Homo sapiens: one gene and its partners. The protein of the gene in region 4 purifies or fractionates together with the protein of the main gene of each other region. This does not show direct contact. Each region holds a gene or a part of one and is shown on either strand. Other genes may lie near its edges.

What was found.
Region 1: the proteins of LRRN2 (region 4) and BIRC2 purify together in Homo sapiens (co-immunoprecipitation; 3 studies listed by BioGRID and IntAct, with this or other methods). This does not show direct contact.
Region 2: the proteins of LRRN2 (region 4) and FGFR1 purify together in Homo sapiens (affinity purification with mass spectrometry; 2 studies listed by BioGRID and IntAct, with this or other methods). This does not show direct contact.
Region 3: the proteins of LRRN2 (region 4) and PTPRD purify together in Homo sapiens (affinity purification with mass spectrometry; one large-scale study listed by BioGRID and IntAct). This does not show direct contact.
Region 5: the proteins of LRRN2 (region 4) and FBXO11 purify together in Homo sapiens (affinity purification with mass spectrometry; 2 studies listed by BioGRID and IntAct, with this or other methods). This does not show direct contact.
Region 6: the proteins of LRRN2 (region 4) and USP22 purify together in Homo sapiens (affinity purification with mass spectrometry; 2 studies listed by BioGRID and IntAct, with this or other methods). This does not show direct contact.
Region 7: the proteins of LRRN2 (region 4) and KLHL22 purify together in Homo sapiens (co-immunoprecipitation; one large-scale study listed by IntAct). This does not show direct contact.

Annotation. Positions count from the first base shown.
Region 1 is NC_000011.10:102,350,214-102,353,713, reverse strand, and holds part of BIRC2 (baculoviral IAP repeat-containing protein 2), read right to left. Parts: coding exon 2,965-3,500; intron 2,871-2,964; coding exon 2,771-2,870; intron 1-2,770. UniProt on the Homo sapiens protein: Multi-functional protein which regulates not only caspases and apoptosis, but also modulates inflammatory signaling and immunity, mitogenic kinase signaling, and cell proliferation, as well as cell invasion and metastasis.
Region 2 is NC_000008.11:38,420,136-38,423,635, forward strand, and holds part of FGFR1 (fibroblast growth factor receptor 1 isoform 1 precursor), read right to left. Parts: intron 1,807-3,500; coding exon 1,662-1,806; intron 1-1,661. UniProt on the Homo sapiens protein: Tyrosine-protein kinase that acts as a cell-surface receptor for fibroblast growth factors and plays an essential role in the regulation of embryonic development, cell proliferation, differentiation and migration.
Region 3 is NC_000009.12:10,606,503-10,610,002, forward strand, and holds part of PTPRD (receptor-type tyrosine-protein phosphatase delta isoform 1 precursor), read right to left. Parts: intron 1-3,500.
Region 4 is NC_000001.11:204,675,739-204,679,238, forward strand, and holds part of LRRN2 (leucine-rich repeat neuronal protein 2 precursor), read right to left. Parts: intron 1-3,500.
Region 5 is NC_000002.12:47,806,420-47,809,459, forward strand, and holds the end of FBXO11 (F-box only protein 11), read right to left. Parts: intron 2,848-3,040; coding exon 2,739-2,847; intron 2,168-2,738; exon of another isoform or gene 2,104-2,167; intron 2,009-2,103; coding exon 1,910-2,008; coding exon of another isoform or gene 1,829-1,909; coding exon 1,699-1,828; 3' UTR 501-1,698; downstream 1-500. Other genes in the region: DNA mismatch repair protein Msh6, read left to right, coding at 33-232, 360-441. UniProt on the Homo sapiens protein: Substrate recognition component of a SCF (SKP1-CUL1-F-box protein) E3 ubiquitin-protein ligase complex which mediates the ubiquitination and subsequent proteasomal degradation of target proteins, such as DTL/CDT2, BCL6, SNAI1 and PRDM1/BLIMP1.
Region 6 is NC_000017.11:21,033,012-21,036,511, forward strand, and holds part of USP22 (ubiquitin carboxyl-terminal hydrolase 22), read right to left. Parts: intron 1-3,500. UniProt on the Homo sapiens protein: Deubiquitinase that plays a role in several cellular processes including transcriptional regulation, cell cycle progression or innate immunity.
Region 7 is NC_000022.11:20,468,296-20,471,795, forward strand, and holds part of KLHL22 (kelch-like protein 22), read right to left. Parts: intron 3,221-3,500; coding exon 3,055-3,220; intron 1-3,054. UniProt on the Homo sapiens protein: Substrate-specific adapter of a BCR (BTB-CUL3-RBX1) E3 ubiquitin ligase complex required for chromosome alignment and localization of PLK1 at kinetochores.

The DNA of each region.
Region 1 (3,500 bases), on a different chromosome or scaffold from region 4:
AGTTCTCACCAAAAAAAAAAAAAAAAAAAAAAAAGAAAGTTACTACATAAGGTGATGGATTTACTGAGATTAAAGATTATTCCCAGTTGAAATGTGGGCTGGGCTCAGTGGCTCATGCCTGTAAGCCCAGCACTTTGGGAGGCCAAGGCAGGCAGATCACTTGAGGTCAGAAGTTTGAGACTAGACTGGCCAACATAGCGAAACTGCGTCTCTACTAAAAATACAAAAACTACTGAGTGTGGTGGCGTGTGCCTATAATTCCAGCTACTCGGGGGGCTGAGGCTTGAACCCAGGAGGTGGAGGTTGCAGTGAACTGCCATCTTGCCACTGCACTCCAGCAGTGATAGGTGATGGAATGAGACACTGTCTCAAAAAAATAAAAAAAAGGAAAAAAGAAATGTGTTGTTTTCAGAGAAGCATTTACAAAACACGCCCCTACATCTTCTCCCTTAATCATTTAAAACAAAACACAAGTTACAAAAATAAAGATTTTGATTTTGTTTTATAAGGTACAAAATGTAGCAGTTCCAACACTGGAATTTGGAAGCTGTTTTTGTCTTTGATACCACAACATGGATTAAATTTCAAATTAATGTATATAATCCCATAGAGCCCAACATAATTAAGTCATTTAAAAGTCTGATAAAACATGCTTTTTAATTTTAAACATAATTAATAATTTAGTCATTTTTCAGTGTAAAAAAGTCAAAATTTATCTTGATATATTATTAATATTAATAACTTTAAAATACAACTTTTAACAATGTACTGATCCATAATAAAGTATTTGTTACTTCAAGTTTCTTTTTCATCATATATCATACAAAATGACGAAAACTTTTTAAATTTCCTGAAGGGGTTCAAGAGATTCTTCATTATTGTGAAAGACACTCACAGGTAAAAACATAATCTGTGATGTATGATTCCACTTATATATGATGCCTAGAGTAGTCAAATTCATAGAGACAGAAATAGAATGGTGCGGCAGGGGGCAGTGGCTCATGCCTGTAATCCCAGCACTTTCGGAGGCAAAGGTGAGCAGATCACTTGAGCTCAGGAGTTCAAGACCAGCCTGGCCAACATGGTGAAACCCTGTCTCTACTAAAAACCCTGTCTCTACTAAAAATACAAAAAAATTAACCAGGCATGGTGGCAGGCACCTATAATCCCAGCTACTCAGGAGGCTGAGGCAGGAGAATCGCTTGAACCTGGGAGGTGGAGGTTGCAGTGAGCCAAGATCGTGTCACTGCACTCCAGCCTGGATGACAGAGTGAGACTCCACCTCAAAAAAACAAACAAGGGCTGGACGCGGTGGCTCACGCCTGTAATCCCAGCACTTTGGGAGGCTGAGGTGGGTGGATCACGAGGTCAGGAGATCGAGACCATCCTGTCTAACATGGTGAAATCCCATCTCTACTAAAAAGTACAAAAAATTAGCCGGGCGTGGCAGCGGGCGCCTGTAGTCCCAGCTACTCGGGAGGCTGAGGCAGGAGAATGGCGTGAACCCGGGAGGTGGAGCTTACAGTGAGCCGAGATCGCGCCACTGCTCTCCAGCCTGGGTGACAGAGTGAGACTCCGTCTCAAAAAAAACAAAACAAAAAAAAAAAAAAAGAGAAAGACAATGGTGGTTGCCAGGATGTTGGGGAATGGGATAATGGTGAATTAGTACTTGATGGGTAGACAGTTTCAGTTTGGGAAGATGCAAAGGTTCTGGAGATGGATAGCGGTATAATCGCAGAACGGTTAAGAATGTACTTAATGACACACAACTATACACTTAAAAAATGGTTAAGATGGTAAATGTTATGCCTATTTTATCACTATTTTAAAAAATTATCTAGGCCAACCCCTCCTCATTTTACAAACAACGTCCAAGTTCACATAGCTACTCAATTACAAAGACAATTTAATTCTATTTCTACTAATAACACTGCCCCTAAATTATTTCTAGGCTATAATAAAAAAAGACACTGCTAGAGACAAAGTGGCTAAAAGGAGGTAAATGACAAAAAAAAATTGTACAGAAAAAATAATTTACAATTACAATTAAAATGGGCAGTCAGATATGCTTTTTTCTTTTTTTTTTTTTTTTTTTTTTTGAGACAGAGTCTTGCTCTGTTACCCAGGCTGGAGTTCAGTGGCACAATCCTGGCTCACTGCAGCCTCCGCCTCCTGAGCTCAAGCGATTCTCCTGTCTCAGCCTCCCGAGAAGCTGGGACTACGGCCACGCGCCACCACGCCCAGCTAGTTTTTGTATTTTTAGTACATACGGGGTTTCACCATGTTGGTCAGGCTGGTCTCAAACTCCTGACCTCAGGTGATCCACCTATCTCGGCCTCCCAAAGTGCTGGGATTACAGGTGTGAGCCACCACGCCCATCTAAGATATGCTCTTAATACATGGACTTTTACATTTGACTTATTCCTGCATCCATTCTATGTCCCTTCTTGTTTTCCTGTTCTTACCTTTTTCTAACGTCTTTTTAATCTATTTTATATGTCTTTGTAATCCTTAAGTACTCTTTAAAAGAAATGGGAAATAAATAAAATGTACGGTCATACTTGTAACTGACTTACAAAAGTACACAGAAGACTGCAGAATATTTTTCAACAAAATAATTAAAGTTAAAATGTGATCTTTTAGAAGGATAATTCCCCAATGGCATAAAAGAGGCTTTGTTATAATTTAAAGGTAAACAAAATCATGTAGGCATGCCTACTTCTTTTAAGCACAGAGTTTTTTGTACAAATACCTTTTTCAAAACAATTACCTTGGAAACCACTTGGCATGTTCTACCCATGGATCATCTCCAGATTCCCAACACCTCAAGCCACCATCACAACAAAAGCATTTGACATCATCATTGCGACCTTCAGGAAAAAAAAGACTAAATATTGAAAACACGTATGTTCTAATATGTAAATTAAAATAAAATGATAAAATGTATAGTTATTTGCTTCTTACCCACATAATAAAAACCAGCACTTGCAAGCTGCTCAGGCTGAACTGGAACACTAGATGGCCAGTACATAAATGTTCTCATTCGAGCTGCATGTGTCTGCATGCTCAGATTTGAAATGCTAAACCTCAGAGTTTCTAGAGAATTTTCCAAAAATGGACAGTTGGGAAAATGCCTCCGGTGTTCTGACATAGCATCATCCTTTGGTTCCCAGTTACTGAGCTTCCCACCACAGGCAAAGCAGGCTACCCTATCTCCAGGTCCTATATAATAAAAACCAGCTCTTGCCAATTCTGATGGTGACAAAAAAGTTAATGGCCACATATGGTAGGTAAGAAATCTGGCTTCTTCAGTACTCATTGCATAACTGTAGGGGTTAGTCCTCGATGAAGAGATGTCTTCAACTGCTCTAGAATTAAGAGGGTTTGGAGAAAGGCTGGAGTAAGAACCACTGAACAAGCTACTATGTTCCAAGGTGGGAGATAATGAATGTGCAAAACTGTTTCTCATTGGAGACGTATTCTTAGAGGTGGATCCCAGA
Region 2 (3,500 bases), on a different chromosome or scaffold from region 4:
CACTGTGTGCATGCACTTAACATGCGGGGACACAGATGTTTCTGAGTCCTCTGTCCCTAAGAAGACACGGGGTCCCTGAGGGCAGGGTTGGTGCCTCGTTTATTTCTGCAGGCCACAGTACCTGGTGATGGTGGCACTCACAGAATGAGGACAGAGGACAGGAGGGGAACCAGCCTGTGCCTTGCTCAATGTCCCACTTTGGGTCTGTGTCATCTCTGTAGGGGCACACAGGTAAATATTTATTCCTAGCCAAACCACAGGCAAAGCTGACTTAATTTCCAAAAATAAGCTTTTTTGGTAGTTCTTTCAAATTCTACTCATAGGCCCCAACTCCTAAAACTTAAGGAAATGTGGCGGCAGGGGGCGGAGTTCCATTTTGTTATTCTCTTCTCCCACCTTCTGATTAGGACTCACCCCCCACCCCATTGCCACAGCAGCTAAGCCAGTTCGGTCCACCTTTCCCTTCAGCACGAGAGGCTGGGAGGCTTTCATCCCAGCACGCACAGCACTGGTTTCATGGAACACGCTTTGCCCCACGGGTGTGGACGGCCCTCCTCCTTCCACAGGCCTCCTCCCAACCTTCCCCTTTAAAACCCACCAGCCAACCATGGAGGCGGCGCCCCTGGGAACCTTCCCAGAGAGGCATGAGGCATGAGGCACGACCCTAGACTGAGCCCAGAGAACGTCCCAAGGCCTGACAAGGAGACAGCAGAGCTGATGACAGGGAGAAGTGTTGCTGTTTTTTCTTTCCCTGATGTTGAGGAACGAAGACAACTGATTGGGAGCACATGGGGAGCACGGACAGGACCAAGACAGGGACGATGATAAAAACAGAACGCTTCTCTGCCTCCAGCAGGGGCATCCGGAGACCCTGACGGGCAAGCAGGGCAGAGTGGGAAAGGAGGGGAGAGAGAAGAGGGCAGTGCCAGCAGGAACAGCCAGACCCACATGCAGGACATTCCGAGAGACAGCAGCAAGCCCTGGCCCCGCAGTCACCAGCCACCACCCTGAGCAGGCTGCAGGCTCCTTCCTCCCTGGCTCAACACGCAGACCTCCCCTCTTGGGAGAGGAGAGACGGCAGCAGGCAAACAGGATACATGGACATCGTGAAGCCTGCTGCGGCTGCCTGAGACAGGCCTTTCTGAAGGCAACTCAGTTCACCTGTCCAGGCTGACCTCCTTCTTCAAAGGCAATAGGATGGCAGTACAGGAGGGTGGGCTGCTCTTTGCAAGCAGCAAGCCCCACCCCTGGGCTGAGCACTTGAGAAGGGAGAAGAGGTGTAGGGCCCTATCTGAGACTTTTCAGATGCTCAGTACCCAGCGGAGGGGGGAGGCTGCTGGACCCAAGGACGGAAGGAGCCTGCCCTGGAGGAGTCGGGCTGCAGGGTAAACCCAGATCCCGGGCATGCATTGCAATGGCCAGGGGGAGAGCAGAGGCAGGTGTACGGGTGGGAGGCCTCCGTGCGCCTGCAAAACTAGGGAAGCTCTTCTCTGAGCTGAGAGGATTCAGCCCTCAAAGCTGGGGCAGGATGTGGCACCAGGCAGGCAGGAGCCCATTCTTCCAGCTCTCCTGCCTCTGTGTCTCCCCAAGCCTGGAAATGCATGCTCCCCCCGTGCCCGTGGCGAGGGCAGGACATCGAGAGGAGAAGTTACAGTGTGTACCTTCCAGAACGGTCAACCATGCAGAGTGATGGGAGAGTCCGATAGAGTTACCCGCCAAGCACGTATACTCCCCTGCGTCCTCAAAGGAGACATTTCTTAAGTGAAGCACCTCCATCTCTTTGTCGGTGGTATTAACTCCAGCAGTCTAGAAGAGACAACGGAAGCAAAATGGACAAGCACAGGACATGAGACCTCTAAGAGACGCAGAGCAAGGGAAGGAGACAGAAAGAAGGGGGACTAGAGGAAGAAATGCTCCCTGACATCTTCTTTGCAACAAGGAACAAACGAAAACCACCAGGCAGCAAAACCTGTTAGAGGAAGAGGGTGAGACCCTGAGGGAAGAACTCCGGCAGACCTGAGAAGACGATGGCTGGTTACGACCCTTCACCAGATGCTGGCAGCCACTGGCCCATCCGAGCATGCGGGCGGTGAGCGGCATGGAGAAATGGGGCCGGCGGGCAGGGGCTGTTTGGTTTCAGGTAAAGATAGCCAGAAGGTGAACACAGGAGGGATGGCGGGGGCTGCAGACACACACATGCACACGCATACACACACGCACATGTGCATACACAGCCAGCAGATGCGAGTATGCAAGGGAATGCCTAACCCCTTCTCTCTCTTTTTTAAGAGATGGGGTACCATTCTGTCAACCCAGGCTGGGGTGCAGTGGCATAAACATAGCTCACTGCAGCCTCGACCTAAGCTCAGGCAATCCTCCTGCCTCAGCCTTCAGACTAGCTGGGACTACAGGCACACGCCACCATACTTGGCTAATTTATTTAATTTGTAGAGATGGGGTCTTGCTATGTTGCCCAGGCTGGTCTCAAACTCCTGGCTTCAAGCGATCCTCCCACCTCAGCCTCCCAAAGTGCTGGGATGACAGGCGTGAGCCACTGTGCCTGGCCTATGGCCCCTTCTCTTAATCACCACTCACTCACAACTTCAGTCTGAAGTACCATTTGTAACACAGCAAAACCGTGTCCCCGTGAGTCCTCACATGGATCCACACAAAGCCAAGGAACACACAGAAGGCAGAGAGGGAACCCACAGACACCAACACAATACCAAACCAAACCAGCCTCCCAGGCCGGGTATTTTTCCATGGCTCTGGGCACTAGAAATACAGTAGGGTGGCAAGGACAGTCCAGTACTGGCTTCCCCGCCTGCCCCAGCAGCTTGGGGCCTACATCAAATCCCCAGCACAGGGTCCCATCCATCTCCCCATTACCTTTTGCCACAGGTCTGGTGACAGTGAGCCACGCAGACTGGTTAGCTTCACCAATATAATTGGAAACCTTACACACATACTCCCCGCTCTGGGCCTCTGTCACATTGAACAGGGTCAGCACCTCCGCATCCGAGCTATTAATCCCCGAATGCTGGAACAAACCAACGACACACCAGTCAGTTGGGCAAAGCTGAGATGTGGCCACGCACGTTGCTCCCGTGTAACTTTCAGGCAGGCCCAGGGAGCGAAGGGAGATGTTAAGTGAGATTTATTACCTTTCCCTTTTAGTTTTTTTTTTTTTTTTTTTTTTTAACGCAGAGTCTCACTCACTCTGTCACCCAGGCTGGAGTGCAGTGGCGTGATCTCAGCTCACTGCAACCTCTGCCTTCTGGGTTCAAGCAGTTAGCTTGCCTCAGCCTCCTGAGTAGCTGGGACTACAGGTGCCAACCACTATGCACAGCTAATTTTTGTATTTTTAGTAGAGATGGGGTTTCACCATGTTGGCCGGGCTGGTCTCAAACTCCTGACCTCAAGTGATCTAAAGTGCTGGGATTACAGGCGTGAGCCACTGCGCCCGGCCTTCTTTCCCTTTTACAAGTACAGAACAAGTG
Region 3 (3,500 bases), on a different chromosome or scaffold from region 4:
GGAAACACTCCATTACTTCTTCTTTATTTTCTTTTTTTTTTTTTCTGTTTCTGTGCTCTAAATTAACCTTTCCTGGAACTTGAGATAAAATATGAGGTTTGGGTTATTTTCTATGTGGTATAAAGAAGCTATATCTAGGCCTTTATCTTAACTGAGCAAGGACTATTTAACCAGACAAGGGAATGGAAGTATTCCTATGATACGTATGTCATGTTACATGTGGGTAGTAGTAAAAAATGCATGTGAACACAATGCTTGCCTGGCTTTGTTCTCTGTTCGTGTAGCTGCTGAAGGAGTCCCCTTTTTAACACAAACTACATTTGAGAACTATAACTTTGGACAGTTTGTAAAATCTATAATTCACAGAAGTTCTAATATGATGAATGCATTGAGACTTCTGTAGCTGATTACGTAAATATTTGCAAACTTAAAAATGAATTATTTCAAAAGTTCATGAATTCTGTATTTAATCATAATACTTTAATTGTTCCCTTACAGAGTAAATCAGATAGCATTATATATGCAATGATTCATACAAGGCATCCCAGTAGAAAAGACACACATTTAATTTAAGCTATCTCTGATCTCATGTGAAATGTATATAATCGAATATGAAATTATTCTCTTCCTTTTTAGCATCTAATGTAAGTAAATGTATTTGAGAATATAGAGGTAAAATATTTTTGCTTCATGGTTATTTCAAATTTAAAATATTTACTTATTATAATATAGTATTTAGAAAATACATGGACTCATTATTAAAGGCAACGCTTTGGTAATATGGTGTATTGTTGAACTTTGATTTAAGAACTAATTAGAGAGCAATTTGTTATGTTACATACTAGTCTAAGTCATTTCTTTTTGACTGTTTGATTATTATACATACACTTTTAAACTTTTGAGTACACCATTTTCACTAAGTCCTATTTTGAAGAGAACAGATGTTTTTAAACACACACAGATACATAAATGCTCACATGCAAACACAAAATAAAATGCAATTGAAGTCTCTACAATTAATCAGCTATATTGGCTATATTTTACAATTTAAAAAAATAAGTATAGCATGATCTCCCAGACTTCAGTGATTTAAAATGTACATTTCATAGAGATACATATCTACTTGCTGCAACTCAAATATTCCTATCACATATAGAAAACAATTGGTCATATTGATTTTCCTAGAAGAAAAAAAAAGTTTCCAATTTCATCAGTTATATCACATGAATTATAATGAAAAATAAATTATTGGTTTTCTTTAAGAAAAGCAAGCATTTAAAATTAACATTGCATATATTCCTTCTTTGTATTCATTTTCCATGATTGGAAGTTTTGTTATTACATTTTTTTAAAGTTAATGTATTGTATCCTACAAGATCAATGAAACTATTTTATTGATAATGTAGTTAGAGGTGTAAAAATTATTGTCTGTGTATTTACTTGGCAATATAGCATGTGAGATGGTACTGAACAAGGATGGAAAACCTCTCTGTGAAACTGGGATATTCAACCAACTTTGATATCTTTTATTTTTGAAGTTCTCAATTTCCTCTTTAAAATGCAAGGGTTCAAATAATTTTTTCTATGGTTCTTTCTAGCTCTTACAGTCTACATGTATGTAAGGAATAATATATATTTATTTAAATTGTGCATATTTATCCAAATGTGATGCTGCAAAATAGCATACATAGAGATTTCAGAGTGGGAAAAAGGAAGACCAAAGACACTAAGCATCCCCTTTTACTTATTTTCTTCTCATATCCTTCTGATATTGGGTACAGTAATAAAATCCAAAAATAATTATACATGTAATATGCTCTCAGTGGCAGCAGCATAGGGTCATTTAGAGAAACTTGAGTCCACCTCTTCCCTTCCATAATCTCCATCCTGCTCCTTCAAAAACACTCCAAATAAACATTCAATCTCAATCTACGTAACAAGAGTGTCCAGGCACTGCTGACCTGACTTCAGGACAATTTCCTTAGCCCTCTTTCAAACAAGATGGCTGCCCCTAACTCCTACAGGATTCTCAAACTGCCACAGTATAATCTGAGAATTTGCAAAATGCAACTTCAGTTATATTCAGTATATTAGTCACATAGCTTGAAAGACTTTCAAATTGCTAAGCCAATTTATTTACCTGACAGAGGTACAGAGAGTCCAGATTACCTCCTTAGGGTCACACTTCCAATTGTAGTGATGAAAGATAAACTCAAAACCTTTGTTACTACAATCACATCAGTGTTCTCCTAACGGGTAATGTTCATTTTTTGATTCTTCATTAATTCTTCTTCATTCAGTGAATTTTAAGAGTTTTGAAAAGCTTGTTACAAGTACAGTTAATGTCTACATTGTTTGACTGTATCAGGAGACATTTATTTATTCTTTACGGATGCCAAATGCTTTTGACAATCCTAAAAAAATAAAACAGTGAACCGACAGTAGTGGTAAAGAAATTGCACTTTAATACATAAGAAGATAAGTTCAAATGGCATTGAACTGGGTACAAAATTCTACTTATTTAATTTTCATTATAACTTTTAAATTAGCATTCTTGAATATTTGTCATATCATTTGCATTGTTAAAGTTTATTAAATTCAGGATAGGTGTAAGCCCAAAAATATGTAACTGAAATTAAAGTGTTTCCTCCAAACAACAGAGAGAACTTGAAATAATGTTATTTGCTGCATTAAATGTGAGACATACATAGATAGTAGCTAGATCAATAGAGACACATGGATAGATATATTTAATTCTGTAATTTTGAAAATCACATTTTTTTCAGAATTTTCTAAAAAGACATTAAGTAGGTAAGTTTCAAACATGTAACATGCATTTCAGGTCACCTATTATCAAATTATTATATAAATTCTGTTCACTCACCACCCTCTACCATAATCCAGTTTTAGAATTGTAAAGTTACATTAATCACACTTCTCTAACTGCAGAACAGTTTACACCAGTGGTAACCACAATAATTGTCATGTGCACTATTAGTCATTCCTAAAATTTTAACATAATATTCTGCTAATTCTTGGATATAACTAGCAATATTTTAGCTTTTCACTTACTCTCCAGCATTATTAAAGAAAAATGTGCATTTGCAGAACTCTGCACCTGCATACATTTGGATTCCTGCATCCTACTAGTAATACACAGGAAAGATATCATGGCATTCCATAAAGAATAAAGCAAAAAAAGTTATGAATAGCTCAACCTTCCAATATCACATCTAATTAGCATTGTTTTCTTTCTAAATTAAGTGTATTTAGTAAATAGTAATCATGCCTTGAGTTCCATAAAATATAAGACCATGTGGTCAACAAAATCATCTTTATGTTGCTATAGTTACAAGAGTAGGCTTGTAAATTTTATGTTAATATTAAAAGAAAAGAAAAACATGTTTGCCTTCACCAACAGCAACTGAAAGCAAATGCAGGTATACAGCACTTTATTAGAAAGAACCCCTTTAGTAAGCACATGTAAGAGGAATTAATCA
Region 4 (3,500 bases):
ATCTTAGGGGGCCCATTATTCTGCCTACCATACATTGAAAAATGGATTAACTTCTGTAAATGTTTGAAAGCCACAGAACCAGAGCGCTTCCTGTTGCCATCAGTTCTGATGCACTATGACCTAAGCTCTTCTCCTTTTCTCCATGGGGGATATGCAGAGGAACTCTGGGTCTGCCCATCAGAGGTGAATGTTGGCAGGCTTAGGCTGTTTTGTGGGCTGTGCAGAGAGATGGGTCTCTATGCCCACCAGAAAAGAGGTCTCCGGGGAGGAAAGAATGAGGACTGTTTTAGGGGAATGGCCCTGTCTCAGCTCCTTCACCTCCATTCCCTATATACCCTGAAATTCAGATGACCCTGCAGTTGTCTGCTCATTTTTATTTCCATGCAAGGTTACATGGAGCCGTGTGTGTGTGTGTGTGTGTGTGTGTGTGTGTGTACCCACCCATGCACACTTTACCTGTTGCAAAAGGCATGCCAATCTAACAGTCATAAAGGTGAGATAGCATCTTGTCTTTCCACACTTTGACCTTCAACACTGTCCTCTTCCAAGATTCATGAACAGTCCCAGATTGTTTAGAACAAACTCTAGATACAGTAGCTAAGCTCAGAAAACATAGGATCTTAGACCTTTCTGAGCTTTGTACTGCTTCTGCTAGCAACTTTCCAGGCCCATAATGATCAACTCTCGCCTCTGCAGGTGAGACAGGCTCTTTCTTGACCCTGGGGGAGATGATGGCCTCTCATTCTTCCATACAGCATAACCTCTGTTCTCATCTCTGCAAGACACCCTCTGCCAACTGCTTGGGACCCAGTGGGGCTCAATAACTTCTATGAGCAAGGTGCCCTGGGCATTAATCACAGCCCCGGTGTTTTATGATTTTATGCAAATTACTCACCTCTCTTAGCCTTATTTTCTTCCCTCGGTATAAACTGGCAGCTCATTCCCATTCCCACTTCTATCATATGTCCCAGGGGATCCCGGAAAAGAAATGTGATGAGGTAGGAGAACCCTATTCTCTAGAGGAGTGGCCCTGGGGAAATTGAGAAAAGGAACTAACATTTATTGAGCTTCTACTTTGTAGCAGGTACTTTACACAGATTAGCTCATTTAATGTGGTAGTTGAGAATCAGGGCTCTGGAGTCAGAAAGATTTGGGGGCTGAATTCTGGCTCTGCCACTTGCTGGCTGTGCATGGCCTCCAGGCTTTAGTTTCCTCAACTGCAAAATGGGGGAAAATAATATCTACTTCACAGCGTTATGTGGACGAAATGAGACAAATGCAGTGAAGCTTCTGGCACCTCATAAGCACTCAATAACGTTAGCTCTTATTATTATTAACAACCCTAGGAAGTGGATGTTATTAACTCAGATTTACAGATGAGGAAACTGAGGCTCGGAAAGGTTAAGATGCCCAAGGGCAGGTGGCTAGGGACTGTGAATTCTGACCCAATGCCAACTGATTCCACTTCCTCTGGATTGTAAGCCATAAGGACAAAAGCCCCAGGGTCAGCCTCTGCGTCTTCCAGGGGGTTGTGCTGGGGTACAGCGGGTGTGCCCCCCTTTCTCATGGGGGCTGGGGGCAGGGAGGAGAGCATCGCCCCCCATGTCTTGGGTGGGTGAGGGCACTACCAATGGATCCTAGTCTACTCCACTCTGGTGATCTCTCTCTATACTTCAGAGGTGAGTTCATATCCCCAAGATCCAGGGAGAGGACACACTCACCCCTCATGGGGGTGGAAGTTTGCTCATTTTGGTGCAATTTTATTTCCAGTTCACAATATCTGAAACGACCAGGAATGTTATAGGAGTAACCTACCAAACAGGAGCCCACCCAGGCAGTGAAAGGAAGGGAGAAGAGAAGCTGCTGCAGCCTGGGTAGATACATGGAGCCTAAGGGAATTCCAGAGAACATGGCTCCAGACACCAGTGAACTAAGAGGCCGAGATTCCCAGCATGCAGACCTGGGACAACGGCCGGAGCTGGAAATGGGACTCCATGAAGCCAGAGGACTTCCAAGATCAGAGATCATCTGGTCTCGGGCAGGAGAGGGCAAGGACACTGGATAATGGATTTCCTTCTGGAAAGGGTGGCTTTCCGTGTCTCTGGAAAGAGTACAGGGGGCATTGGAAACCCAGGTGGGAGGCAGGGACTGCTCAGAGACAGAAGACCCTGCCCTTGCACGTTGCCACGTGGGCTGCCTTACTCCCACTCAGTGACCTCCCCTCCAGCAGCACCACCCTTCTCTCCTCTCACCCTGCCAGCTCCAAGTTCTCCGTGCGAGAATCCTTCCCACTGCAGAGTCGAATCTACTCCATTTTCCAAGCCTAAATCAGCCGCGCCCCCCTGAGGAAGCGTTCCCTATATAACTCCCACACAGAGCTCACAGTTCTGATAACATTTATAGTCTAAATCACACAGTTTAGCACTCGGTTTTAAATACTGTCTGGTATTATTCCCTCATTATTTCTTGTGAGTGTAAGTTCTGCCTCCCCAGCTGATCAGTAGGTTTCCTTACCAGTAAAGACTGTGTCCTGTGCTTTTTTATTTCCTTCCCAACCTCACACCCCACACTGCCTAGGACAGTGCTCAGAGCATCCTTGGTGGGGATGTACTGATTGGCTGAAACAGCTCCAATGGCTGCAGAGGGCAACCAGGCAGCACTTCCTGACTAGCCGCTGAGGGAAAAGCTGGAATGGATGGCCAACGACCAGTGGTGTTAAAAAGTCAAATCATGCCGCCCCAGGCTCCAACCCTGCAAGAGCCCATCTTACTCTGAGGAAAAAATCCCCCTCCTCACCAGCTCCAGACCTCTCCTAGAGCTAACCTCCTCCTGACCCTCTGACTTTATCTCCTGCAACTCTCTGCCCTCACCACACTCCAGCCACGCCAGCCTCCACGCCGCCTCTGACTCTCCAGGCACAGCCCTGCATCCCTGCCCTTGCACCTGCTGTCCCCTCTGCCCAGCTTGCCCCGACTGTGGTGCCACCCCCTCATCTCTCCTCAGATATCACCTTCTCAGTGAGGTCTCTGTAGCCACCCTGCACAAGATAACAAACTCCCCCTCTCCCAACTGACTCTTCCATTTCCCTTCCCTGTTTTTTCTCTTTAGCACTTACCAGCCTCCAATGTGCCATTTCCTTTATGAGTCTATTTTACTGCATCCCCAGACAATAAACTAAAAGCTCCTGAAGGGCAGAGGTCTGTCTGGTCATTCACTGCTGTCTGCCCTCAGTGCCTGGCTACATGCCTCACAAATACTTGCTGAACGAAGAGACTCCAGCCCCATCCCATGTCTGAGATGGCTGAGGCCTGGTGGCGCTCGAGATGGGCAGTGGACAGGATGATTCTGCAGGTCCCCTCGCAATGTAGATTCCACCATTCAACCCCTGGGCCCAATTCTGGGCAGGCACTTTCTCAGGCTCGAGGCCTGAAGCTGTCTGAGCCCCAGCAGAAGGCAGGGGAAGAGGAGTGGTGACAGCCAGGCAGGGTGAAGTGTCAAAT
Region 5 (3,040 bases), on a different chromosome or scaffold from region 4:
CACATGTATCGCTAATATTTTTCTTTCTTAAGGCATGCATGGTAGAAAATGAATGTGAAGACCCCAGCCAGGAGACTATTACGTTCCTCTATAAATTCATTAAGGGAGCTTGTCCTAAAAGCTATGGCTTTAATGCAGCAAGGCTTGCTAATCTCCCAGAGGAAGTTATTCAAAAGGGACATAGAAAAGCAAGAGAATTTGAGAAGATGAATCAGTCACTACGATTATTTCGGTAACTAACTAACTATAATGGAATTATAACTAACTGACCTTAAGTTTCAAAGAAACAGTAAAAGGGGAAGGGATGATGCACTATGAAAAAACAAAAAAACTTTTTTTTTTTTTTTTTTAATTTTAAGGGAAGTTTGCCTGGCTAGTGAAAGGTCAACTGTAGATGCTGAAGCTGTCCATAAATTGCTGACTTTGATTAAGGAATTATAGACTGACTACATTGGAAGCTTTGAGTTGACTTCTGACAAAGGTGGTAAATTCAGACAACATTATGATCTAATAAACTTTATTTTTTAAAAATGACCATTTTTCCATTTTCTTTCTAGGAAATTAAACCCTTTTAATTCTTATCTACCTTCTACATAATGGTTATTGAATACTCCACAATATATTAAGTCTAGATGTTATGGTACATGCATACACTTTCAGGCTGTTTTATACCCACTGTCACCAATACACATAAATGGGGGAGGAAAAGCTATGAAACTGTATAGGGCTGTATATATACTTGTCTCAGCTTAATGCAGGAAATTGGTTTAATTTCCAGCAGTTTTGTCTAAACTGTTCAAAAAAAAACTATGAACAGAGTTCAAATACAGGACTGTTTGTTTTGAAGAGACTTTCTAAAGTGTACTTAAAACATAGTAGTTTTTTACCTTTCACAAAACTGAGTTACAAGAATACTTTTGTTTTACAGTGCATCCCTTCCTAGGAAGTCTCATTAAAACACTCACTTTTTCTAGGGGTGATTTTGAATGCTGCACAGGGAAGGGAAGGAAATAATAGTCTTAACTTTTCTTAAAGGATACCAGAAACATTGCTGGATATAATTTAAGATTAGTGTTTTCTCTTTCATAGAAAGAACGTACATACTGGGACATGAGTACAGTTACAGCAAGTCTAGGTGTGCTAACAAAACAGGGCACATTCAAGTACAGTAAGATTTTGCTTGAAATTAAAAACAAACTACATGAGATTAAAGCATTAAAATCATATTTCTCAATCTGAATACATGTTAAAAAAAAAAAATCAAAAGGAACGCAGAAGTGCTAGCTCACATTTTTACCATATTACAAAAGCAATTGGTACCCATGTCCATAAAGGCAGCAACAAAGCTGCTTGTCTATTGAAGATTACTACTGCAAATTGGACTGCATTCAATGCTAGTTGTAAAAACACCAGCTTTTCAGAAGTTGGTATCTGTACAAAATTGCAGCTTATTTTCTTCACTTCTGTCCCTTCAAGTCTTTACACAGTAATGCTAAAACACCCAGCTTTGAGATCCTGAGTCAATATATTGCCACTTTCTTTTTGGTAGCTTGAGCTTCATAGTGTCAACTGACCTTGTGTATCCATTTTTAATACAGTCTCTTCCTGTAGCATGGGCAAATATTTTAAATCTTCTTCCAAAAAAGTGTTTTAAGTTATGATGTTACAATGGCAGGACTTTTTCTTTAGGGAAGGAATTCAGTTGTGCTGCAATGTATTAGATTCTATAGGTGGAGCAGAGTCATATAGTGTATCTGTATCATGTGTAGGCTCACCAGCTAATGTACAAGGATTAGACAGTGTTCCAGCACCACAGTCACAGAAAAACCTAAAGCAAAATGAAACCCAAATATTAGAAAAGTGAGGGGGAAAGTAATTGGGTAATATATCAAGCAAGTGTGCTACATACCTATCATGTCTAATAAACTCTACATCATGTCCCTGATGGCACTTCTTAATGCAGTTCACACATATGGCATTTCGATCTGTGGTGTTACAAGTATGACATCTAAAAAGCAAAAGCTTAAATTACTTTTCTCAAACATGTCATTAATGCAAAACATTCCATTCTGTTTATATATTACTATGACCTTTGGCTTTAAGAGGACCAAAACAAAATTCTTTGTGGCTCCAGCCCAGATTAATTCTGAAAAGGAACTTTAATGGAGTAAGTGATTTTCCTGTCATCTGTGTCTTCGGAGGGAAGAGAAATGATTTGTAAATTGTATAAAGGCAGTTCTTTCCACTTTAAAAGCCTCTCAAATGTTTCTGGGCTGAAAACAATTTTTGGAGGCGTGAAGAGTCAAAACTGTCACAGTGACTGGGATATATCAAACACTTAACCCCGACATCTTTACCTTGAAATTTCTAGGAAAACATTACACAACATGAGTTACATGAATGACATCAGTTACTGTAGCATTAGGTTTTTCCATAGTTATGGTCTTTGTTTTGTTTTGTAGAGACAGGGTCTCCCTATGTTGCCCAGGCTGGTTTAGAACTCCTGGGCTCCAGTGATCCTCCCACTTCAGCCTCCCAAAGTGCTAGGATTACAGGCATAAGCCACCACGCCTACCCACAGTTACAGTCTTAAACACGATCTTCAAGTAGATTGATGATAAAATTTTCAGTTAGTTATAGTCTCAACACCGGCAAATAGCCAAAAATGCTAGGCATTGCTAATTTAAAAAGGAAATCAGTCTTCCTCTTTTCAGGACTCAAATATATTTCTAAGTTACCTGTAGAAATCATGCATGGGATAGCTGGTATAACTTGATATTTTATATAAACATTGGCCTCTACTAACAGCCTTTTCTATGGCATCTTGATTGTTCATTATTTTGTTATCTGTAATAAAAGAAAGAATAAGTAAAAATTCAGAGGAATGTTAATATTTTAAAAACCAAAGATTATAGGATTATTCTAACAGAAGAGCCACTATTTTTAAGAGCTTTAAATGAAGCTAACCAATGAAGTAATTGTAAGAAATCAGCTAAGAATAGAATTTTCCTTGTATAAGATACTCCAACCATTTAGAACC
Region 6 (3,500 bases), on a different chromosome or scaffold from region 4:
ACATTTGCAGACGATGCGGTTGGTGAGTAAGCTAAGGAGAGAGGCCCAGTGGGGGCATCCACAGGCTGACATGGACCGTGGAGGGGTGGCACTGTTTAAGCAGCCCAGCACACCACTTTCTGGTGTGGTGGCTCCTGCAGAGGCAGGATTCCCCAGGCTGGCGGGTTTTCCTAGAAATTCAACCTAGAATCTACTACTCCATAGCCCTTGCAATGATTTCTGAATTAAATCCTTTTCTCCTATAAATTAATTCAAGTAGATTCAGTAGACTGCAAGCAAATCCTGAAACATAACTAGGATTTGTATGTGACAGGAATTAGAAGAGGATCAATTATTTAATTGTTGTTGATCTTATGCAGTACAGAAACACCCTGCCAAATTCATTAATTTGGTCCCGATATTAAGAATATTCCTCTGAATATCCTGTCCTCTTATCTCCCCACTCACACTACCTCCCACCCCAAGAAGGATGCGGAGGAGCAAGAGGGGCAGAGCCCTTGTAGTCAACCAGACTTACCCTATGGGATGACTCAACAGTACACTGAATTTTGAGTCCAGCTTTTAAAAGTGTGCAAACATGACACACCACCTTAAGAGCTAGTGCACTTTTCACACATTACCCATGACTTCCTACTGGTCTAAAACCTGAGCATCTTAGGAAGGTAAGTTTAATTCTTGTGCATTCTCTTCAGTGACTTTTTCAAGGACTCAAACACTGACATAAGTGAAGGGACAGGTATAATTTTTTTTTTTTTTGAGAAGGAGTCTTGCTCTGTCACCAGGCTGGAGTGCAGTGGCGTAATCTCCGCTAACTGCAACCTCCGCCTCCCGGGTTCAAGTGATTCCCCTGCCTCAGCCTCCCGAGTATCTGGGACTACGGGCGCGTGCCACCATGCTCGGCTAACTTTTTGTATTTTAGTACAGATGAGGTTTCACCATGTTGGCCAGGATGGTCTTGAACTACTGACCTCAAGTGATCCACCCACCTCAGCCTCCCAAAGTGCTGGGATTACAGGCATGAGCCACCGTGCCCGGCCTAAATATTCTATCCTTTATATGAAAAAAAAAATACGGCACTAAAAAGCTAAAGACTTTGCCAAAATTAGATAATCTTCTCAAATTAAGTTCCCCAACCTCAAAAACCTCAGCTTCCAGACTCAGGCCCCTCAATCTCGGAGCCAAAATCAATCTAAGGGTACAGCGACTCCAGACCTTTCAATTTACAGAAGGGGTAATTTCATTCAGCAAAGGCAAGACCTCAGACTGACCTCATTTCAAGGCTGGGACCCAGCAGTTGCCGGTGATGTCCTTGGACAGGTCAGGAGACTTACTTGCCAGGCCTACCTAAAAAGTGTATCCCAACTACCAAAACCAGAAGGAAATTACGTATGAAATATAAAATATCACAGCAGTCCTCCCTTACCTACAGTTCCGCTTGCTGTGGTTTCAGTTACCCACAGTCAACCTCAGTCTGAAAATAGTAACATGGAAATGCCAGAAATAAACAATTCATAAGCTTTAAACTGCCCGCCGTTCTGAGAAACATGATGAAACTGAGTGACATCCCGCTCTGTCCCATGACCATCCCTTTGTCCAGCTTCTCCGTGCCATCTAGGCCACCTGCCCGTTAAGTCACTTGGTAGCTGTCTTGCTGATCACATCAACTGTTGCGGATGTGATCACGGATAAAAGTGAACACAAGCCACTTTTATTTGGCTTAATATGGCCCCAAAGCTCAAGAGTACTGATGCTGCAATTTGGATATGCCAAAGAAAAGCCATAAAGGGCTTCTTTTACGTGAAAAGGTAAAAATTCTTAATAAGAAAACAATATCAAATAACAAGGTTGCTAAGATCTACAGTAAGAACAAATCTATCCATGAAATTATGAAGGAAAAAAGTTTGCACGTAATACAAATGGGGTTCAGTATTATCTGTGGTTTCAGACAACTACCGGAGGTCTTGGAATGTATCCCTCAAGGATGGGGGTGAGTACTCTATTATCATAAACAGGAAATGAGGAAGCCCAAGAGATGCTGTGCTGAGGGACACACACTTGGACGGAAGCAAACTGGGGCAAAATCCTCCTGGTACTGACCAGCTTAGGCTAGTCTTCCTTTAAATTGAGCTCACCTCACACAACTGTCAATTACACATGTATGGGGAGCAATCACATTATCCTAAAGCCTCATTTTAATCTACCATTCTCACTTAATTCTCTGAGTTTCTTACCAGAGCTGCTAACATATAATAATAAAACTCACACTCAATTCTATCTCAATTTCTACTCTTCAGCACCCTCTGCTACAGGTACTGGCCAACATAAAACAAGAGGCAAGAAAAAGACTCACATATCCATTAGGCGGGTCATTTTAATCCTTGAAAACTGAGTTTACTTCCTACCTAAGCTTCCATCCGCTTAATACCAAGGTGATCAAGTCTGTGTGCTAAATACAGGAAAAGCCTTAATAGGAGACCCTGCTACCAATTTGTAGGAAATAGGACAAAAAAAAAACAAACCACAACACTTTGAACTTCCACTGTTGAGTATGCAAACAGCAAAATCCAGACTATAGGGAAGTCAACAAGTCACAAGGCCCAAGTTTTTCAACAGATAAAGTAGAAGCAAAAAACTGTAAGAAAGGAATGAAGAGAGAACCTACAGATTAAGAAACTTAAACGACTTACCAGTATAGCCACATGATAAATACCATTAAAAGAAAAAGGAATGAACTTTCGGCTGGGCGCGGTGGCTCACGCCTGTAATCCCAGCACTTCGGGAGGCTGAGGCAGACAGATCACAAGGTCAGGAGATCGAGACCATCCTGGCTAACACAGTGAAACCCAGTCTCTACTAAAAATACAAAAAAATTAGCTGGGCGTGGTGGCAGGCGCCTGTAGTCCCAGTTACTCGGGAGGCTGAGGCAAGAGAATGGCGTGAACCCAGGAGGCGGAGCTTGCAGTGAGCCGAGATCGCACCACTGCACTCCAGCCTGGGCGACAGAGCAAGACTCCGTCTCAAAAAAAAAAAAAAAAAAAAAAAAAGGAATGAACTTTCAATCCACTCAATGGATACAATGGATATTGCTAGACAAAAGAAGCCAGTATGAAAAGGCTACAGACTGTATGAACCCAATGATATGACATTCTGGAAAGGGAAAAACCTCCGAGATGGAGACGAGACCAGTGGTTGTGGAGAGTTAGAAGGTGAAGCACAGGGATTTCTTGGGGCAGTGCAACTGTTCTGTACAGTACTGTAGTTGTGGATGCCTCTGTCAAAATCCACTGAGCTTTAAAGCACAAAGAGCAAACCTTAATATATGCGATTTTAAAAATAACTGATGAGGCCCTATGGAATGCAGGCTGAGGCAGAAGAAACCAATTGTATTACACATATAGGACACAACTCCGCCAAGAGGGGTGGGGAGGGAAGTACCTAAGTAATGTGGAAATGAGGAGGGAGTGTAAGACTAAAAGCAAAAGGAACTGTAACTGAGCACT
Region 7 (3,500 bases), on a different chromosome or scaffold from region 4:
AGCAGCTCCTTGAGAGGACCCTGCTGACTCTCCTTTCAGTCCTATTTTTAGAGCAGTGGGCCTTCTGTTCAGTGAAATCTCACAGAGGAACCAGCCTGGGCTCAGGATGTGCAAAAGCCCCATACGAGGCTCACAGAAGGGACTGCATTTGCTTGGGGTAACCCAATAGGACAGTGTTACTGGGAATCAGACTCAGGCCTCTGGGGACACCGTGAAGAATCTGGTCCCAGGCCTACTGCAGGGCACAACACATGGGGGAAGCCTCCAAAAGTCACTAGCTATGTGAACATACATGATTCTACAGGCCTATGGACTTGACATGGTTATGCCAAGTAAAACCTGCTATAAAACAATATTGTGAAGAAGCCTGTTTTTTTTTGTTTGTTTGTTTTTTGTTTTGAGATAAGCTGGCATGTAGTGGTGTGGTGATCACAGCTTACTGAAGCCTCCACCTCCTGGGCTCAAGTGATTCTCCCACCTCAGCCTCCCGAGTAGCTGGAACTACAGGTGCATGCCACCATGCCCGGCTATTTTTAAAGTGCTTCTGTAGAGGTCTCGCTTTGTTGCCCAGGCTGATCTCAAACTCCTGGCCTCAAGCAATCCTCTCACCTTGGCCTCCAAAAGTGCTGGGATTACAGGCATGAACCTCCAAGCCTGGCCCAGAAGCCTGATATGTTAAAAAACTAAGATAGGCTGCTGCCTCTGAGATGACCTCTGAGGCACTGGGGGAGATGACCCAGGGCTGTCGGGAGCACTGGCCAAACCAACAGAGAGAGACTGCAGGCCTCCAAGCTGACTGGTGAGAGAGGGAAAGTGATGTTAGAAAGATGATCTGGTTTCAGTGTGTGTGATCACTGCAGGGAGAAGAAAGAAATGGCAGAAACATACAGATGGAGGCCAGGCAAAAGGGAAGGAAATGGAAACACAGAACAGAGATGGCTACAAGCAATACCGAGAAGGATGACCTGTCCTCACATGGACGCAGGGAATTAAGAAGGTGGACGGGCTCAAGGAGCCACTGAGGTTGAGCCCAGGGAACTGGCAGGATGGTCACAGGACACACAGAGCAGGGGGACTGACAGGGGAGCTCCGGGAGAGTGGCAGGTGTGGAGGAGGAGATAGGACAGCTGGACCTGAGCCATGCTGGGGGAGATGTTTCAGAGGCAGCTGAATCAGGAGTTAACTGCTGCCAGGGTGGAGAATTGGATGAGGGTTCCCAAAGCAACAATGACAGGGATGTGGGGACAGAAGAGATCTCTAAATAAAAGAACAGGGGGAAATTCTTTTGTTGTAAAAGCCAACTCCATCTACTCACCATGCAGGTATGGTGAGACAAGTCAGTCATCTCAGATCAACCCACCCAGCATCCAGGTCCTATCCACCAATCTGAGAACAGGGCACAGGGAGGCTGCCAGGGCCCTGTCACATGGGGTGGCACCTCCACATGCCCCCGAACAGGTTGGTTTTCCTGTGACTTGAGTTGTTTTTTTTTAATTGCGTCAAACCTGCTCTCATGGGAAGAAAGGTCAGAATGATGAACTTAGCATAGCATTTTGTTTCACTTTTAAGAAATGTGGGAAGAGGTGACTGTCAACTCCTATCAGGCCTCTGCCTGATAGCTCAAAGGCACCTGCAGGCCCAGTCCCGTGTAACTGCACCCACACCACTGAGAATAATCATCCAAAACATAAGTCACACTGTCAAAGCCTCAGAAAACTTTTTGAATTCTGCAGGAAAACAAGTACTTAAAGTTCAATAACAGGTTGGGTACAGAGGCTCACACCTGTAATCCCAGAACTTTGGGAAGCCAAGGTGGGAGTATCACCTGAGGCCAGGAGCTTGAGACCAGCCTGGGCAACATAACAAGGCCCCATTCCTATAAAAAAATATATATATATATAATATCAGCTAGGCACAATGGCACGCATCTTTAGTCCCAGCTACTCAGAAGGCTGAGGCGGGAGGACCACTTGAGCCTAGGAGGTGGAGGCTACAGTGAACTATGATCATGCCATTGCATTACAGCCTGGGTAACAGAGTGAGACCCTGTCTTTAAAAAAAAAAAAAAAATAGGCCAGGCGCAGTGGCTCACACCTGTAATCGCAACACTTTGGAAGGCTGAGGTGGATCACTTGAGGCCAGGGGTTCAAGACTAGCCTAAGCAACAAAGCAAGCCTCTATCTCTATAAAAATAATTTAAAAATTAGCCAGGTGTAGTGGCACATGCCTATAGGTCCTAGCTATTTGGGAGGCTGAGGCAGAAGGATTGCTGGAGCCCAGGAGGTTGAGGCTGCAGTGAGCTGTGATCGTGCCACTGCACTCCAGCCTGGGCAAGAGAGAGAGAGCTTGTCTCCAATAAATTGAATGAGTGGATGGATGGATGGGTGGATGGATGGATGGATGGATGGATGGATGGATGCATGCATGGATGGATGGATGGATGGATGGATGCCTGCCACCATGGATGGATGCATGCATGGATGGATGGATAGATGGATGGATGGATGGATGGATGGATGGATGGATGGATGGATGCATGCATGCATGGATGGATGGATGGATGCGTGCATGCATGGATGGATGGATGGATGGACAGACAAATAGATAGATAAAGTTCAGTAACAAAACACATAAGTTTTCAAGAGACTGAAGTGGCCCAGTGAGGGGACAGGCAGGAAGGGCCCTGGCAGCAATGCTGGTGGATGCTCCCCATTGCCAGACCCCAGAGCACACAGGACGTCCACATGCAGCCTCGGGTCAGCCTACCTGCTTATGTGCAGGATGCTTTCAATGACAGGGAGACTCAGACAGTGGGGAAACAACCAGCAATAGAGAAGAGGGCAAAGGCAGAGGCCTGGGGTGTCTAGAGCGGCTCTGCTTGAGCTCCAGGAACAACTCCAGAGTCTTCCCCACTTCATGGCCTTCGTCACTGCTTGGTCTCCTCACATTCCTGACCCATCTTCAAGCCAATGCTAGTGCCCGGCAGGCATCATGGGCATCTCAGGGAACCCCACCTGGGTGTGGGTCTGCCTTGCTAGATGAGACATGCCTCACCTGAAGCTGGCAGGCAGCCACCAGTGTCTCTTGTACATTGCTCAGGCTGAGCTCCAGCTCGGAGGTGTATATGAAATGTAGGATTTGGCACATAGCATTGTAGGACACACCGTGGATCAGGACCTCTTCCTGTTCCATCTCCTTCAATCCCCCAGCAAACATTCCTCTGCAAAGTGAAGACACAAGAAAATGGAGTTATACCAACAGGGACTTAAGCCCATGTTGCCAAGAGTGACAGCATTCAGAGAAGAACCTGGCGCTGGTGGCAGGGCCCTGGTAGTGGGCTGACCCACTCTGTGCTCTGAGTGAACTGTGTGCATGCATGAGCCATCCCACAAAAGGATCCTGACGAAGTCTGGGCAGCCATCCTGGAAATTGTCCTGTTTCCCTTTTCATGGGCCCAAGGAGTCCCATGTGAGCTTCGGGAGGTGAGGCCACAAGCAGCT